Linked DNA regions of Homo sapiens: all the other regions are linked to region 2. Evidence: fine-mapped expression QTL. A gene starts in region 2. Each other region holds a variant in brackets. All regions are shown on one strand. Distances are between the middles of the regions. Region 1 has its middle 50 kb from the start of SFTPD. Region 2 holds the start of SFTPD (surfactant protein D). Region 3 has its middle 20 kb from the start of SFTPD. Region 4 has its middle 37 kb from the start of SFTPD.

The links. PIP is the estimated chance that this variant, and not a neighbour inherited with it, causes the effect.
Region 1: its variant is fine-mapped to the expression of SFTPD in anterior cingulate cortex (GTEx, PIP above 0.99). The same link has a PIP of 0.9 or more in amygdala and whole blood.
Region 3: its variant is fine-mapped to the expression of SFTPD in whole blood (TOPMed, PIP above 0.99). The same link has a PIP of 0.9 or more in blood mononuclear cells and monocytes.
Region 4: its variant is fine-mapped to the expression of SFTPD in atrial appendage (GTEx, PIP above 0.99).

The regions. Positions count from the first base shown.
Region 1 is chr10:79,997,786-80,000,474 of GRCh38, forward strand. No RefSeq gene overlaps it. Among named protein-coding and RNA genes, the nearest start is that of SFTPD, 50 kb to the left of the region's middle. The variant T/C (reference allele first, on the strand shown) is at 1,177.
Region 2 is chr10:79,947,548-79,950,236 of GRCh38, forward strand. It overlaps SFTPD (surfactant protein D), which reads right to left and starts at 1,558. Exons shown (of 8, transcript NM_003019.5): 1 at 1,519-1,558.
Region 3 is chr10:79,967,531-79,970,219 of GRCh38, forward strand. It overlaps a transcript of SFTPD not described here. Among named protein-coding and RNA genes, the nearest start is that of SFTPD, 20 kb to the left of the region's middle. The variant G/A (reference allele first, on the strand shown) is at 1,584.
Region 4 is chr10:79,985,236-79,987,924 of GRCh38, forward strand. No RefSeq gene overlaps it. Among named protein-coding and RNA genes, the nearest start is that of SFTPD, 37 kb to the left of the region's middle. The variant A/G (reference allele first, on the strand shown) is at 1,400.

The sequences.
Region 1 (2,689 bases), 50 kb after region 2:
TCACCCTACAAATTAGCCTCACTCTACTCATGTTTTCCCAACACACATTGGTATCACATATAGATAAACAAGAAATGTGGCAAAATATCAATACCATTTTACCAGGTGATTAATGCTATTACACTGCTTCATAATTCTTTTCATTTTTTATATTATCTGTAAAAATGCAAATATTATGATACTTTTATTATGTGAGAAATTTCATACTTTTTATTTTGGTTGACTACCACTCTTTTCTCTTTGATATCATTCAATTATTTGCCTCTCTATTAAAAAAAAAACTAGTACCTACATCCATCTATATTTTTTCTTTTTTCTTTTCTTTTCTTTTTTTTTTGAGATGGAGTCTCGCTGTGTCACCCAGTCTGGAGTTCAGTGGTGTGATCTTGGCTCACTGCAACATCTGCCTCCCGGGTTCCAGCGATTATCCTGCCTCAGCCTCCTGAGTACCTGGGATTACAGGCATATGCCACCATGCCCAGTTAAATTTTATATTTTTAGTACAGACAAGGTTTCATCGTGCTGGCAAGGATGGTTTCGAGCTCCTGACCTCAGGTTATCCACCCATCTTGGCCTCCCAAAGTGCTGGGATTACATGTGTGAGCCACTGCGCCCAGCCTCATCTATATTTTCCAGGAAATTTACAAAGCTCTAAATTTGCCAGGCGTGGTGGCTCACACCTGTAATCCCAGCACTTTGGGAGGCTGAGGCAGGTAGATTGCCTGAGCTGAGGAGTTCGAGACCAGCCTAGGCAACACGGTGAAACCCTATCTCTACTAAAACACAAAAAATTAGCCGGGCGTGGTGGCATGCGTCTGTAGTCCCAGCTACTTGGGAGGCTGAGGCAGGAGAATTGCTTGAATCTGGGAGGCAGAGGTTGCAGTAAGCCGAGATCGCCCCACTGCATTCCAGCCTGTGCAACACAGGGAGACTCTGTCTCAAAAAAAAAAAAAAAACAAAAACAAAAACCTCTAAACTTACATGACTTACACACACATGACAATGCAGTTGTTTGACCAGTTCTCTGGTCGTAAAATTAGGGTAAGGGTGCTGTGCATATTTCTCATTAAGTCTGCACAATTCTTCCTCAGGAAATTTATCTTTGTGTTTTGTTTTTCCTCTTATTTTCTGTTCCCCTTACTTTATAACGCCATCCTCTTCAGCAATGGAACCTAA[T/C]AGAAAGATGGAGATAGATAAGCATTGAAGACTGTGGCTCACACTTGTAATCCTAGTACCTGTAATCCCAGCTGAGGCAGGAAAGTCACCTGAGGCCAGGATTTCGAGACCAGTCTGGGCAATATAGTGAGACTCCATTTCTATTTAAAAAAAAGAAAAGAAAAAAAGAGTACTGGTAGTATTCAGAGAGAAAATGATTAATCACAACAATGTTGGTACAACTGACTACCTGTTTATAGTGTAGAATTAGGGCCTCACAGCCATTCACAATAATAATATTACAAATGGAAGCAGGGGTTGGCAAACTATTACAAATGGGCCCTATCCAGCCAGTTTCAGTTTTTATAAATAATTTTCTTGGGACACTAGCCACACCCATTTATTTACCTATTGTCTATGGCTGCTTTTAAGCCGAAATGACAGAGCTGAGTACTTGAAACTCCACTTTGCCCAATGCCCAAAATGTTTACTTTTTGTTGTTTGTAGGGAAAGTTTGCCAAGCCCTGGATTACAGAATTTATCTTTAAAATTAGGAGTAAATAAATGAGAATACTGTATAATTCCATTAATATTTTATATAAAACAGACAAAACTAATCTTTGCTGTGGTTAATTTATTTTATTTTATTTTGAGATGGAGTCTTACTCTGTCACCCAGGCTGGAGTGCAGTGGCACAATCTCGGCTCACTGCAACCTCCGCCTCCCGAGTTTAAGCGATTCTCCTGCCTCAGCTTCCCCAGTAGCTGGGATTACAGGCATGTGCTGCCATGCACAGCTAAATTTTTTGTGTGTTTTTAGTAGAGACTGGGTTTTACCATGTTGGCCAGCCTGGTCTTGAACTCCTGACCTCAAGTGATCCACCCGCCTCGGCCTCCCAAAGTGCTGGGATTACAGGCGTGAGCCACCATGCCCAGCTATGCTGTGGTTAAAAGTAAGGATATGAGCTACTGGGGGAAGGGTATCAGTGCCTTAAAGGGAACCAAAAGTAGGCTCCTGAAGTCAGGTAATATTATCTTTCTTTATCTGAATGTTTGTTCCATGAGTTTGGTTGTTTTGTGACAATTTATTAAACTGACTATGTATGATACATGGTCTTTTGGGTATGTGCACTATATTTCAATAAAGTTTATTTTCAATAGCCTACATGTCTTATCTAACCTGTACTCCTCCTGCCTTTCCTCTCTGACATCATTTTCTACTGTCCACCCCTCCGCCTCACATAGGCACCATCTAGTGGTATTGGCCTCCTTGCTTTTTCTTAAACATCTCAGGCTCCCTCTCACCTCAAGGCATTCCAACCTCTGCCTGCAAAGCTTCCTGACCTCTCATGATCCCCATATCCCTTGAATCACTCCTTCATCCCCCTCTCAGCCTTTGCCAGGTGGCCTTTTCAGATAGGCTTACTTTCATCTACCTATTTAAAGCTGCAATTCTCCAAAAATTCCTAATCCCCCTTATTTTATTTCCTTTTTTCACAATGCTATATTTTCTCAGTAATAATTTCTATTTCACT
Region 2 (2,689 bases):
AGATGTGGTGGTGCGTGCTGTAATCCCAGCTACTCGGGAGGCTGAGGCAGGAGAATCTCTTGAACCCGGGAGGTGGAGGGTGCAGTGAGCCGAGATCGTGCCACTGCACTCCAGCCTGGGCAAGAGAGTGAGACTCCATCTCAGAAAAAAAAAGAAGTCTTATATGGAAAGAGGACATGCCAGGTAGGCTCAGTCAGGCAGAAAGCTAGTGTTGTGGGTAAGCAAGAGCAACTACCCAACAGGGCACCCATTTACTATCTAAGATGGTCAGGAACTGAGACCAGGATAAGAGCAGGACCTGGGACATTAACTGTTTTGGGTATCTTTTCTCTCAATGAGAAACCGTAAAGTTATGAGAGTGAAAAGAGCTGATCAGATTCGCAGAGGCTAGGAACAAAGCCAGAGGGACTTGTGCAAAGAAAGGGGTCACCAGGCCAACTGGGGTGGTGGCAAGTGGGGGGCTTCCTGCCCAGAGGAGTGCCTTCTTCTTTGACTGCTGGTGATTCTGGGCTGTGGATGACCCCTATTTCTCACTAGCCTCTTTCAATTTTGAAATCACCACTTCCTTGGGTATCCTGGTAGTCTCTAGAAACACCTGGGTGAGCTCACTGCCAGCAGCGGCTACCTTGTTACACCTGTTCTGGCAGAGGCTCAATCATGAGCAGCAAGGGCCAGACCCAGGCCAGAGCAAGGGCATTGTTCTGTGCCCCGCAGCTCCCTCACCCCTCAGGCCCTGTGTCTGATTCTGGGGAAGAATGAAAGGCAATAGGCATTCTGTCTACAGGCTCAAGATGGCACAGAAGGCACCAGCAGCCACTGTGGCTTGAAGGACACTTGGAGAGGGCAGACCCGGGTTTTCAGGCCCAGGATTCAGATGAGGCATCTTAGCTGGGGCAGCAGATGGAGTGGGCAGAGTTGTGGTCCCCCTCAACCCCTGCAGTGCCCAGTTTATGCTAAGCTTTCAGAGTACAATTTCATTGAAAAGGCCATCTCCTCTGAACATGGATTGGAAAATCAGAGACCTACTCCAGTAAGTATATTTTTTAAAGTAAAGACCTGAAGCTATGAGAAAAACAGGCTTGCCCTGCTTTTCCACAGGCTGTTGGCACCAGGATGGGTTTAGAACCCCAGCCTGTGAGTGCCTGGGTTTGTCTCTCTTCCACTGTCCTTTCTGAAGAAATCAGTGCAGAAAAGAGCCTAGAGATAAATTAGCATTGCATTTTTCCACCTGAAGCTTCCACACTGTGGCATCCCAGGTCTAGATAGTGTCACACCCACTCTTCCACCCTGTGCACCCCCAGCTCAGAAAGCAAATCCTCCCCTGGGCTGAGGCCACTGAATAAGGGGCAGAAGAGCACCATAAGACCTCCTGTGCTCCCCACCTCCTGCGCCCATGCCTCCTAGACCAGAACAGCTACACAGACCCTCCACACCAATAGGTTGAATTGCCCAGGTCGGCAGAGGGATATTTATAGGATGTGGAGAAAATAAAAAGAAGGCAAGAACAGAGACACTTACAGGTTTCTTTTTGTTAGGCCCCAGGAGCTCCAAGCAAACTAGCCTTTGCTTGGCAGGCACTCACTATTTATGCCTGCCCTGTACCCTGAGCTGCCCAGCCCCAAAAACTCCCTTCAAGAAGTGGGGCAATTTTCTTCTTTATTGACTCACTCACTCTTATCCCCACCTGCGTTCTGGAAACCTGCCACTGATATTCACAATACTATGCACATCCATCACTATAGTTTGCAGAACACTATCAGGCCTTGAACTCATCTGCACCTTTCTCACTGCAGCTCTGTGAATTAAGTGGCATCATCAGTGTCTGTATTTTATAGATGTCTAGAAATCAGGAGTCCAGAGACCAGCAGGTTGCACAATGACCTACAGCGATTGCAAAAGGAACTCACAACTGCAGATCTTAAGAGCCAAGACCTGCTGTGTCCACTTCTCCTCTTCCTTTGTCTCAACAGCACTGCCCAGATATTGGGAAAGAGCTGAGAGCTGCTTGGAATACCTGGGCAGGGGTGGGGCAGGTAGAGTGGCTGCAGAGGCAGCAGCATGTGGGGGCAGCAGCTAGGGAGCTGCCACCTGGAAAGAGTTGCTCTTTTGCATGCTGCTCTAGGCCTCAGAGAGCCCCTGCCTTGCTTGTCTTTTGTGGGATGGATTTCCCTTAGCAGACCTCTGCCTTGCCTTGTTCAGGCTTGTTCTCCCTGCCATCTTAGCTGGTGTTTGTCTTGTGCACTGTTCTTGTAACTAGTTAGGACCCCTGAGCTGATGCTACTTTTATCCAATCTTTTAGTCTGTATGTATTTTTTTTTTTTTTGAGACAGTCTCACTCTGTCACCCAGGCTAGAGTGCCATAATGCATTTATAGCTCACTGCAGCCTCAAACTCCTGGGCTCAAGTGATTGTCCTGCCTCAGCCTCTTTACAGGTGAGCATGATCACACCTGGCTAATTTCTCTTTTTAATTTTTTACAGAGATGGGGTCTCACTCTGTTGCCCACGCTGGTCTCAAACTCCTGGTCTCAAGCAATTCTCCTGCCTCAGCCTACCGAAGTTCTGAGATTACAAGTGTAAGCCATCATACCCAGCACCAATCTGTATCTTTTAAGTGGAACATTTACTCCATTTATTATCAAGGTTAATATTGATATGTGATGTTTTGTTCCTGTCATGATAATTGTTAC
Region 3 (2,689 bases), 20 kb after region 2:
CACACTACCTGACTTCAAATTATACTACAAGGCTACAGTAACCAAAACAGCATGGTACTGGTACCAAAACAGAGATATAGATCAATGGAACAGAACAGAGCCCTCAGAAATAATGCCGCATATCTACAACTATCTGATCTTTATTTTTCTTATTAATATAAGAAGACAGGAATGTCAGGCCTCTGAGCCCAGGCCTGCACGTATACATCCAGATGGCCTGAAGTAACTGAAGAATCACAAAAGAAGTGAAAATGGCCTGTTCCTGCCTTAACTGATGACATTACATTGTGAAATTCCTTCTCCTGGCTCAGAAGCTCCCCCAATGAGCACCTTGTGACCCCCGCCCCTGCCTGCCAGAGAACAACCCCCTTTGACTGTAATTTTCCACTACCTACCCAAATCCTATAAAACAGCCCCACCCCTATCTCCCTTCACTGACTCTCTTTTCTGACTCAGCCCACCTGCGCCCAGGTGAAATAAACAGCCTTATTGCTCAGAAAAAAAAAAAAAAGTTATTGATACATAATAGTTGTACATATTTATGGAGTATATGTGATATCTTGACTCATGCATACAATATATAATGGTCAAGTCAGGATAATCGGGATATCCATAACCTCAAATAGTTATGATTTCCCTTTGTTGGGAATTTTTAAAAATAATTTCAACTTTTATTTTAGATTTAGGGTGTACCTGTGCAGGTTGTTACATGGGTATATTGTATGATGCTGAGGTTTACGGTACTATTATACCCACTTCCCAGGTAGTGAGCATGGTACCCAGTAGTTTTTCAACACTTTCCCCCTCCCCAGTGTCTATTGCTGCCATCTTTATGTCCATGAGTATCCAATGTTTACTCCTATTTACCAGTGAGAACATGCAGTATTTGGTTTTCTTTTGCTACATTAATTCTCTTAGGATAATGGCCTCCAGTTCTATCCATGTTGCTGCAAAGGACATGATTTTATTCTTTTTTATAGCTGTGTGGTATTCCATGATGTATGTATACCACAGTTTCATTATCCGGTCCACTGTTGATAGGCATCTAGGCTGATTTCATGTCTTTGCTATTGTGAATAGTGTTGCAATGAATATATGAATGCATGTGTCTTTTCAGTGGAATTATTTATTTTCTTTTTGATATATACCCAGTAATGAGACTGTGTCAAAAGTAGTTCTGGGTCAAAAAGTAGTTCTAAGTTCTTTGAAAAACATCCAGACTGCTTTTCACAATGGCTGAACTAATTTACATTCCCACCAACAGTGTGTAAGCATTCCCTTTTCTCTGCAGCCTTCCCGACATCATATTTTTTTTTCTTTTTCATGATAGTCGTTCTGACTGGTGTAAGATGGTATCTCATGGTTCTTATTTGCATTTATCTGATGATTAGTGATATTGAGCATTTTTTCATATGTTTTTTTGGCCACACTTATTTTGAAAAGTGTTTGCTCATGTCCTTTGCCCACTTTTTAATGGGGTTGTTTTTTGCCTGTTAATTTAAGTTCCTTATAAATTCTGGATATAAGGCCGGTCATGGTGGCTCATGCCTATAATTCCAGCACTTTGGGAGGCTGGGGTGGGC[G/A]GATCACCTGAGATCAGGAGTTCGAGACCGGCCTGACCAACATAGTGGAATGCAGTCTCCAATAAAAAATAAAAAATAAGGGCCAGGCATGGTGGCTCAAGCCTGTAATCCCAGCACTTTGGGAGGCCGAGGCCTGTGGATCACAAGGTCAGGAGTTAGAGACCAGCCTGACCAACATGGTGAAACCCTGTCTCTACTAAATATACAAAAATTAGCCTGGCATGGTGGCAGGCGCCTGTAATCCCAGCTACTTGAGAGACTGAGGCAGGGGAATCACTTGAAACTGAAAGTGGGAGGTTGCAGTGAGCTGAGATTGCATCACTGCACCCCAGCCTAGGGGAAAGAGCAAAACTCCGTCTCAAAAGAAAAAAAAAATCTGGATATTAGACCTTTATCAGATGCGTAGTTCGTGAATATTTTCATTTTCTCCACATCCTCAACAACACTTATTATCCTTTGTCTTTTTTTATAGTAGCCATTTTAAAAGGAGTGAAGTTGTATCTGATAGTAGTTTTAATTTCCATTTTCTCAATGATTACTGATATAGAATTTTTTTTATATACCTCTTGGCCTCTGTATGTCTTCTTTTGAGAAATGTCTGTTCAGATCATTTCACATTTTAAATCAGCCTATTGTTTTCTGGTTATGGAGTATTTGAGTTCCTTATATAGTAACCCTTTATCAGATGTAGAGTTTGCAAATATTTTCTCCCATTCTGTAGGTTCTTTTAACTCTGATGTTTGTTCTTTGTTATACAGAAGGCTTTTAATTTGAAGTAATCATATTTGTCTATTTTTGCTTTGATTGCCCTTGCTTTTGGGGTCACATCCAAAAAATAATTGCCCAGACCAATGTCATGGACTGTTCCCCGTGTTTTCTTCTAGTAGTTTTTTCAGGTCCTATATTTACTCTTTAACTCATTTTCAGTTGATTTTAGTGTATGGTATGAAATAAGTTTCTAATTTCAATCTTCTGCATGTGGACCTCCAGTTTTCCCAACATCATTTGTTGAAGAGACTGTTGTCTCCCCATTGAGTGTTCTTGGCATCTTTTTCAAAAATCAGTTGGCTGAGAATGCATGAATTTATTTTTGGGTTCTCTGTTCT
Region 4 (2,689 bases), 38 kb after region 2:
GAAAGTACAGGATGCCCTATTAAATGTGAATTTCAGATAAAATAATAACTTTTAAGAATAAGTATGTGTCATGCAATGTTTTTAGTATAAGTATGTCCCAAATATTGTATAACCACACAAATTATTTGTTATTTATCTGAAATTCAAATTTCACTGGGCATCCTATGAAAAGTCTGGCAATTTTATCTGTCCACATTTAGGAAGGTGCAGTGTGTTTCAGAGTAGCTGGAGTGATGCAAGGAGGAAAGGCAGAGTGGGCCGGATGGGGCTGAGAGGCATGCAGGAGGCAGTTCATAAAAGACCTATTCTATGTTAAGGGATTTGGATTTTATCCTGAAATTAATGATGAGCCCTTGGAGAGCTTTAGCCACAGGGATGTGAAACTGTAGCGATATCAGTGTCAGGCATGATGAAATGAGTGTTAGTTTCTATGGCTGAATAGCAAATTACTCCAAATTTAGAGTCTTAAAACAGTAAACATTTATTATCTCACAGTTTCTGTGTCTCAGGAATTCAGAGGCAACTTAGCTGGGTGGTTCTGGCTGAGGTTTCTCATGAGGTTGTAGACAAGATGATGACCAGAGTGGCAGTTATCTAAAGGATACACTGGAGCTGGAGAATTTGCTTCTAAGGTGACTCACTCTAATGGTTGGGAAGGCACTGCTGGCTGTCAGCAGGAGAGCTCAGTTCCTTGCCACAGGGACCCACCACAAGACAACTTGAGCCTCCTCACAACATGATAGCTGCCTTAGTGATCCGAGACAGCAAAGTGACCTTAACTTTGGAAGTCATATGCCACCTTGTCATTCCCATATATCCTAGTGCTAACACAGCTCAGCCCTGCTCAGTGCAGAAGGGTCCTACACAACGATGTACATACAAGGAGGTGGGGATCATGGGTCATCTTGGAGGCTGCTTATCTGGGATGGGAGGCTTACATGGTGATGCCTGTGACCTTGGAAGTGGAGGAGAATGATGGGCGTACAGAAGAGTGGAGAAAGGCTGGGAGGAATAGAGATGTGGCAGAGGAGGGGAGGCAAAGAAAAAAGAAAGGGGGAAGGGATGTTGGAGCAGATTGTAGTCTGTCTGCAGCAAAGAGCATCACCAAAGCCATTCTAAGGGAACTAGATCCACCTCCTTCTCTCCTGGGCATGCCCCAAAGATGGTTGTGGCCTCCAGAGAGGACCCCAAAAGAAAGCACAAAAACTAGACAGTGGGAGGGCAGTACCCAAAAGCCCTGAGTTTCTGAGCAAAATATTGAAAGTTTCTATGGTGAAATAGGAAGGTAACACGCTTAGGAAGAAAAAAGTGGTAATGATTCAAGGAAACATAATCACACACAGTTTCAGTCTTAATGGACAGGGGAGGACCCATAAAAGTAATCTATCATCTATCAATT[A/G]TATCAACTGTCTATCTGTGATACCCTACCCTGTTTTAACCTGAGTGACTCTCTCTTAGCTGAGAGAGCCGGACAGACTCCATTTTAGCTTCTTCACTTGCAGCCCCCTTATCCCCCCTCCCTTAGGGGAATAACTAGTGCAAGCTGACTCCAAGCACATCCAGGAATGCACTTACTGATAAGATATTGAGGCAAGCTGTACCAGCAGCTGCTGGGGATGTGCTCAGTGGATGGTACCCAAGCCCCTGCATTTATCTCTTTGTGATAGTTTAAGCCCCTGCACCTGGAACTGTTTATATTTCTGTAACTATCTCTGTAACCATTAATTTTTTTAAACTTTTTGCCTGTTCTGCTTCCGTAAAAATTGCTTCAGCTAGGCTCCCCATCCCCTATTTAGATCACAGTATAAAAAGAAATCTAGCCCCTTCTTCAGGGCCGAGAGAATTTTGAGCTCTAGCCATCTCTCGGTTGCCGGCAGTAAAAGGACACCTGAATTAAAAAAAAGAAAAAAAGAAAAAGAAACTTATGGGATACCAAGCAGATTTAACCCAAATAAGACTACCTCAAGATATTTAATAATCAGATTTCCAAATGTCAAAGATGAAGAAAGGATCCTAAAAGCAGCAAGATATAAGAAAAAGATAACATATAAAGGCGCAACACATCTGGCAGTAGATTTCTCAGTGGAAACCTTACAGGCCAAGAGAGAGTGGCATTATATATGTAAAGTGCTGGAGGAAAAACTTGTATTCTACAATATTAAATCCAGTGAAAATATCCTTCAAACATGAAGGAGAAATACTTTCCCAGACAAATAAAATCTTAGGGATTTTATCAACACCAGACTTATCCTACAGGAAATGTTAAAGGGAGTTCTTCGATCTGAAAAAAGAAAGGATGTTAACAAGCAATAAGACATCTGGCTGGGCGCAGTGGCTCACGCCTATAATCACAGCCCTTTGGGAGGCTGAGGCGGGTGGATCACAAGGTCAGGAGTTCAAGGCCAGCCGGGTGAAAGTCCGTCTCTACTAAAACTACAAAAATTAGCCAGGTGTGGTGGCAGGCAACTGTAATCCCATCTACTCATGAGGCTGAGTCAGGAGAATCACTTGAACCCAGGAGGCAAAGGTTCCAGTGAGCTGAGATCATGCCACTGCATTACAGCTTGGGTGACAGAACAAGACTCCATCTCAAAAAAAAAGAAAAGAAAAAGAATCTGAAGATACAAAACTCACTGGTAACAATAAGTACATAGATAAATATAGAATATTATAACACTGTAATTGTAGT